Linked DNA regions of Homo sapiens. Changing the gene in region 2 together with the main gene of any one other region gives a genetic interaction. Each region holds a gene or a part of one and is shown on either strand. Other genes may lie near its edges.

Region 1 (3,500 bases), on a different chromosome or scaffold from region 2:
CTGACTCAGGATATTTCTTCTCTGAGATTCCATTGCACTTAATGAAGATCACAAATCCCATAACTGTTTATTGTTTTGTTGCCCCAACTACGATGTTTCTTGAACGGATGGACCTTTTTCCTTCCAGCATTTGGCAGAGTTCTTAATACCATTTTCATGTTAAAATGGATTGTGAGGGCCTGTGTTAAAATGGGAGCAGTGACAGCCCTGTTCCACTGTAATGTGGCAGCATCTTCTTTTTGAGTTAGACCTTAAAGATTTAGGTGTGCTATAGTCACATTTAACTGTTCATTTAAATTTTAGTGCTGCCAGAGTTGCAAAGGAAGAAAAATTTGTTAGTTTCTTAGATGAAAATGGATGGTTTTGACTGGGTACGGTGGCCCACGCCTGTAATCTCTGCACTTTGGGAGGCCCAGGCAGGGGGATCACCTGAGGTCAGGAGTTTGAGACCAGCCTGGCTAACATGATAAAATGTTTAGCTCTACTAAAAATACAAAAAATTAGCTGGGAGTGGTGGCACACGCCTATAATCCTAGCTACTCAGGAGGCTGAGGCAGGAGAATAGCTTCAACCCGGGAGGCGGAGGCTGCAGTGAACTGAGATTGCGCCACTGCACTCCAGCCTGGTCAACAAGAGCATCAACTCCGTCACATACACAAAAAAAGAAAATGGATGGTTTTGCCCTTTTAATTCTGGAATAGTAGCCACAGTACTGGGGGAAAACCTAGTCTAGTTAGGAATTGTGTCACAGTAAGTTGACTTTATCTGGTTATATATGTGTCAGGTAGTTAGGTATAATGATGCTTAAGATTTTGGACTCTTTTTTTTTTTTTTTTTTTTTTTTTTTTTGAGATGGAGTTTCACTCTTGTTGCCCGGGCTGGAGTGCAATGGCACATGCTTGGCTCACTGAAACCTCCGTCTCCTGGGTTCAAGCGATTTTCCTGCTTCAGCCTCCCCAGTAGCTGGGATTACAGGTGTCCGCTTACACGCCCAGCTAGAACTTTATTTTCTTAATCTGTTAGGTTTTTTCTTCATTATTTCCTTAGTAGTGTACCTAAGTTAAGATAGTGTTTTTAGATCTCACTGTTTTACAGCATTCTGACTGCACTGGAGTTTCATTTGAGCCATTACTATTAATTTATTAACATTCAGTATAGGATATATGTATTATACAATGTAAGTGAGTTTTATCTACCAGAAGAATGTCTCTTAACCATCTCCCTTCAGTAAATTTTTATGGTAAGACTGTGCTGTATTAGTTCCAGCCAACCAGGGTAATTGACTATAAAGGCAACTAATTTGGTGTTACATCCTTCTTTTTTTTTTTTTTTTGAGATGGAGTCTTGCTCTGTCTCCCAGACTGGCTGGATGTGATCTCCGCTCACTGCAACCTCCGCCCCCTGGGTTCAAGCGATTCTCCTGCCTTAGCCTCCCAAGTAGCTGGGATTACAGGTGCTGGCCACCACGCCTGGCTAATTTTTTTGTAATTTTAGTAGAGATGGGGTTTCACCATGTTGGCTAGGCTGGTCTTGAACTCTTGACTTCAGGTGATCCACCCACCTTGGCCTCCCAAATTGCTGGGACTAACAGGCGTGTACCACCACGCCCAGCTAATTTTTGTATTTTTAGTAGAGATGGGATATCACCTTGTTGGCCAGGCTGGTCTTGAACCTCTGGGCCTTGTTATCTGCCCACCTCGGCTTCCCAGAGTGCTGGGATTATAGGCGTGAGCCACCACACCTGGCCTGAAATTGTTATTTCTTATTTTTATTTTGAGACAAAGACTCATTCTGTTGCCTAAGCTGGAGTGCAGTGGCATGATCTTGGCTCACTGCAATCTCCACCTCCTGGGTTCAAGCGATTCTACTGCCTCAGCCTCCTGAGTAGCTGGGACTACAGGAACGTGCCACCATGCCCGGCTAATTTTTTTGTATTTTTAGTAGAGATAGGGTTTCGTTATGTTGGCCAGGCTGGTCTTGAACCCCTGACCTCGTGATCCACCCGCCTCGGCCTCCCCAAGTGCTGGGATTACAGGCGTGAGCCACCGCACCCGCCCAAAATTTTTAATATTTATGTATAGAATGTAAGCTTTTCAGCATGATTTTGAATCAAACAAAATGAGTTAGATTGAAAGCTCTGCTTTCTGAGAGCTTAGATTTGTAACTCAGAATTAGTGTGGACTGTAAGGATCATGCTGAAAGGTTAATACATTTTGGTAAACATAGAGTACCCAGATTCAGGAGATTTATGTGAAATGAATAGGTTTGAGGGATGAGGGAGGAGGAATACCTGTTGAACATTTAAACTGTGAAGTTTGCCACCTATTTTCCCCTTTATTGAAGGTTTCAGGAGGTAGAATTTAAAAAAACAAAACTCTGGGCTGCAAGGGTCAGAGATGGTCATTACGGTATCTTAATAGAGTAATTTCTTTTTTTTGACGGAGGTTTGCTCTTGTTGCCCAGGCTGGAGTGCAATGGCGCAATTTTGGCTCACTGCACCCTCCACCTCCCAGGTTCAAGCAGTTCTCCTGCCTCAGCCTTCTGAGTAGCTGGGATTACAGGCATGTGCCACCACACCTACCTAATTTTGTATTTTTAGTAGAGATGGAGTTTCGCCATGTTGGCCAGGCTGGTTTGAACCTCTGACCTCAGGTGATCTGCCCACCTTGGCCTCCCAAAGTGCTGGTGGGATTACAGGTGTGAGCCACTGTGCCTGGACAGTAATTCTTTTTTATATGAAATTGTATTCTCTGGGCCGGGCACGGTGGCTGATGCCTGTAATCCCAGCACTTTGGGAGGCCGAGGTGGGTGGATCACGAGGTCAGGAGTTCGAGACCAGCCTGACCAACATGGTAAAACCCCGTCTCTACTAAAAATACAGAAATTAGCCGGGTGTGGTGGCATGTGCCTGTAATCCCAGCTACCTGTTAGCCTGAACCTGGGAGGTGGAGGTTGCCATGAGCTGAGATCGTGCCACTGTATTCCTGCCTGGGCAATAGAGCGAGACTCCATCTCAAAAAAAAAAAAAAAAAAAAAAAAGGAAATTGTACTCTGGACTCTCAAGCTTTTTTTTTTTTCTTTTTAAATGTTTAAAAATTTTAATTACCTTAAAATGGTGGATTTTTTTTTAACTTTTTAATAAACTAGGTGTCAGTCTATTTGATATCTTCGGTATTTTGTCTGAGATCGGATGTGGAATCAATAAGTGCTTTTTTTCCTGATAACCTTTTGTGTTTCTCTTTTCTTCTCATTGTGTCTTTTTCAGCACAGTGGAGAGCGGGACATTGTAAAGAGACATTCAGTGACTCAGTTTTTGAGTGGATGCTTTTGTTTTTTGTTCTTAGTTTGCATCTGCTTGAATGGGGTAGCATTTTAACATGGGTCTAATATTAAGCAAACAAGTATTTTTAAACCAATTCTTTGTAAAGCCATGGTTACATGAGTAAATCACTTAGCTTCTATAAATGTCTATTAAGATGATCAGATGAAATGTTACCTGA
Region 2 (3,976 bases):
AGGATGAAATGAGATAATATGGCCAATGTGCATGTCACAATCTTCAATAAATGTTTAAAGTCTAAAAAGCAAGCCAGACTTTAAATATAGTAAGGATATTAGGTTGTCCCAGTGGTGTTAGTCAGTCAGTTTAGGTTGCCATGAGAATTAAGATCCTGAGCACTGGCCAGCTTGTATCAGATCATAGGGGCCTCCAGGAACCTCCAAATGCTGATGGTAATTCTAAAACCGCCTCAGATAGTCTTAAACTGGACCCTCACACCAAACCTAAAATATTTCCCTAATCTATGTTTAGCTGCAGAAACAAGAGGAGGTAGGAGGAGAAGAGCTGCAGTTTCCAAACACCACTGCTTGCAACCTTCCTACCACATGAATGTTCAAGGAGTTACATTTGACATCATTGCTTGATCGGAATCTACCAAGCAATTTCCACTGCACCAGCCAGTCTCTTGGGAAAGTACTATCAGATTTGCCAGAGTAAATTATTGAGATTGTTAACTCTCATGTGGACATGGATAGTTAATGATGAAAAGAAATGAACTATAAAATTGCATCACAGAATTTACTGTGTAAACTTTTCAAACCATTTGTGCCATTAAATAGCGCCCCCACCAAAAAAAAAAAAAAAAAAAAAAAGCCTATCCTTAGGATAGGCAGCTGATGTAGCTGGATGGTGGGGGCTCTAGGTGGCCACGTTCTATCTGTGTTTATATGGTTAAATGGATGAAATGGATGTGTTTGCAGATTGAAACAATTCATAAAGAGTTGAGGCTACTTTTTTTTTTTTTTTTTTTTGGTCTTAGCGCTGAAACTAAAAATCGCGGTTATTTTAGTGTTTAGCCCCGGCTCTTCCGTTGCTCAAACCTCCGGAAACTACATCTCCCAGCATGCTGTGAAACTGGTCTGACTTCATCTCAAATGGCCCCGTAGGGCAACAAGGATGGTTAGTTTTGACCCTACTTATTTGTGCCATAAAAACAATCGATCCTAATTGACAGCTATTTGGACTTTTACATCTGCCAAACCCTTTTCCTTGAACTGTGGTCACTAAATGAGGGGAGTCTGGTCTGGGAAGTCCCATCCATTCCTTCAATAGGATGGGGAGCGGTGATAGTGTCTCCGGCGATCTCAAGAATAGGAGGGAATGTTGACCAGGGAGCACCGCTGCGGCCGATCAGAGGAGCAGGAACTGGAACCCTGGCCGAGTCCGAAAAAAGCCAGATCTGGAAGGTGGCTGCGGAACGGTTTTAAGCGGAAGATGGAGGAGCCGGAGGAACCGGCGGACAGTGGGCAGTCGCTGGTCCCGGTTTATATCTATAGTCCCGAGTATGTCAGTATGTGTGACTCCCTGGCCAAGATCCCCAAACGGGTAAGGGAAGTCGGGATGAAAGACCATGGGCTTTGGGGGTGGGGGTGGGGGCGGTGGACGAAAGAGCGTTAGGAAGCGGAGAGGACACTGGGCTGGGGGAAATCTTCAGAAATTTCGAGTAGCTGTATCAGATACCTAAAGCTGTATCAGAAGGAAGTGTTCTCATATCGTTTCTGAGAGCGCAGCATGTCTCTTCGGGACGTCCAATGGACAGGTAGGAGTGGGGGAGGGGGTACGGAGGAGGGGAGAGGACGCAGTTTCCACTCATAGGGGACCGCTGAAGTCGTGGGAAAACAAGCTGCAGGGGGAAGGTGTTCCATCACCTGCCTAAGGCCCGGTAGCTTTCACCTTAGTGATTTTGATACTTTGTATCTGTATTGTCTAAAGTGTATTGTAACTGTTAACAGAAGGGAAGCCAGTTGAAACAAAATTAATCCGTTCCTTTGTTCAGGATGGTGAGATTGACGGGGATTTTGCTGAATTAAACTTTAAAGAGACTATTTCTGCTTTTCTTTTTTTTTTTTTACGCTGATGTTTTTAGGCCAGTATGGTGCATTCTTTGATTGAAGCATATGCACTGCATAAGCAGATGAGGTAAGTTGTCTTTCTTGAACATAGCCCTGAAGCTAGGTGTTCGTAGCCTTAATATCCTGCTTCACAGTGGGGCAAGGAAAAGAATGGTCTTTTGAAAAAATTATTTTAGCTTTCTGTGAAAGTATTCACAGTGTTTGTAATCTGCCTGTAATCCCAAGAAAGCTCTTGAAGAATTAAGAAAACTTGGGGGGCCGAGAGCATGGCTCACGCCTGTAATCCCAGCACTTTGGGAGGCCTAGGTGGGTGGATCGCCTGAGGTCAGTAATTTGAGACCAGCCTGCCCAACATGGCAAAACCCCGTCTCTACTAAAAATACAAAAAAATTAGCCGGACGTGGTAGCGGGCGCCTGTAATCCCAGCTACTCGGGAGGCTGAGGCAGGAGAATCGCTTGAACCCCGGAGGTGAAGGTTGCAGTGAGCCGAGATTGCACCATTGCACTGCAGCCTGGGCAACAAGAGTGAAACTCCGTCTCAAAAAAAAAAAAAAAAAAAAAAAAAAAAAAGAAAGAAAGAAAGAAAAAGAAAAGAAAACTTGGGACAGGGGAGTGGAAAGTGCAGGAAGCAGTTAAGGTTCATTAGAAATACAGCTCGATTGCTTGGTTAAGTATCCCAGGGGTAGGTGCAGTGCATTGTGGAGATTTTGAGTACATTTGGGTATTAAAACCTGTCTCATACAAAAAGGTGTTCAGCTAGGAGGTGTTCCATTTTTCTTTTGATTTCGTTTCATTCTAAGCCAGATTTGAGGGTGTGAGTTCAACCTAAGACTTTTAGACAACCCACCACCAGCACCAAACTTTAATGGGTGAGGCTGGAGACAGATCAAGACCAAAGAAGGCCGGGCGTGGTGGCTCACGCCTGTAATCCTAGTACTTTGGGAGGCTGAGGCAGGCGGATCATGAGCTCAGGAGATCAAGACCATCCTGGCTAACACGGTGAAACCCCGTCTCTACTAAAAATACAAAAAATTAGCCGGGCGTGGTGGCAGGCGCCTGTAGTCCCAGCTACTCGGGAGGCTGAGGCAGGAGAATGGTGTGAACCCGAGAGGCGGAGCTTGCAGTGAGCCGAGATTGCGCCACTGCACCCCAGCCTGGGTGACAGAGTGAGACTCCGTCTCAAAAAACAAACAAACAAAAAAGACCAAAGAAAACTGCCAAGACTGCGCCAGAACTCAAGAGAGAGCTAACTGTTTCTTCCAAAAACATGAACTTGCTGTTTATTGCCATTTCTGTATTTGATGTCGTTATAAGAGCAAATATAACCCTGCCACATATAGGATTACTTATGACAATTTCTGGCCAAATAGGTGAGTGCTCATACCAACTAGTGTGCTATGCTTCATTTATCTCCCAGAAGGTAGTGTAATAATAGGCTTTCAGATTTTATCCTTATTATTAACAAAATCATTTTGTACCTTTTAAAGGGAATTTTTAAGCCTTTTTTTTTTTTTTTTGATGGAGTCTTGCTTTGTCGCGCAGGCTGGAGTGCAGTGGCGCGATCTCGGCTCATTGCAACCTCCGCCTCCCAGGTTCAAGCGATTCTCCTGCCTCAGCCTCCCGAGTAGCTGGGACTACAGGCACGTGTCACCACACCCATTTTAAGCCATTTTTTAACCCATATGGTTTGGTTAACATAGTAACTATATGCCTTCCATTAAAGTTATTTAACATTTCAAAAAATTATTTTATGACAAACAAGATATCAAAGCAAAGCAAAACTGTCCAGTTTGCTTACTGTTAAATAGGGAGGTTTTCAGTAAGTGTTTTTTAACATTTACCAAAATAAATGGAAGGGTACTAGAAGAGGGAGCTTTTAGGACTGGGAAATACGGTCCGAGATATTACAAAATTTTTATTTTAATGGGTAGATTTTTCACCTCTGGTGGTATAGATTTGTCTTCTTTAAGAAGAAGCAAGAATTCTTGGGTCTTGGCTATGTATTTCACTTTTGAGGCCAAACCACAGGATTTCTTCCAGCTACCTTGGTGATAGTAGTAGCCTGTATAGTCGTATTCAT

Evidence for each region. A genetic interaction does not mean that the proteins touch.
Region 1: changes in HDAC8 (region 2) and TBL1XR1 together harm fitness less than expected from each alone (positive genetic interaction), as found in Homo sapiens cells (one large-scale study listed by BioGRID).

The regions. Positions count from the first base shown.
Region 1 is NC_000003.12:177,187,483-177,190,982, reverse strand, and holds part of TBL1XR1 (F-box-like/WD repeat-containing protein TBL1XR1), read left to right. Parts: intron 1-3,500. UniProt on the Homo sapiens protein: F-box-like protein involved in the recruitment of the ubiquitin/19S proteasome complex to nuclear receptor-regulated transcription units. Plays an essential role in transcription activation mediated by nuclear receptors.
Region 2 is NC_000023.11:72,570,044-72,574,019, reverse strand, and holds the start of HDAC8 (histone deacetylase 8), read left to right. Parts: upstream 1-1,176; 5' UTR 1,177-1,258; coding exon 1,259-1,369; intron 1,370-1,910; coding exon 1,911-1,963; intron 1,964-3,976. UniProt on the Homo sapiens protein: Histone deacetylase that catalyzes the deacetylation of lysine residues on the N-terminal part of the core histones (H2A, H2B, H3 and H4).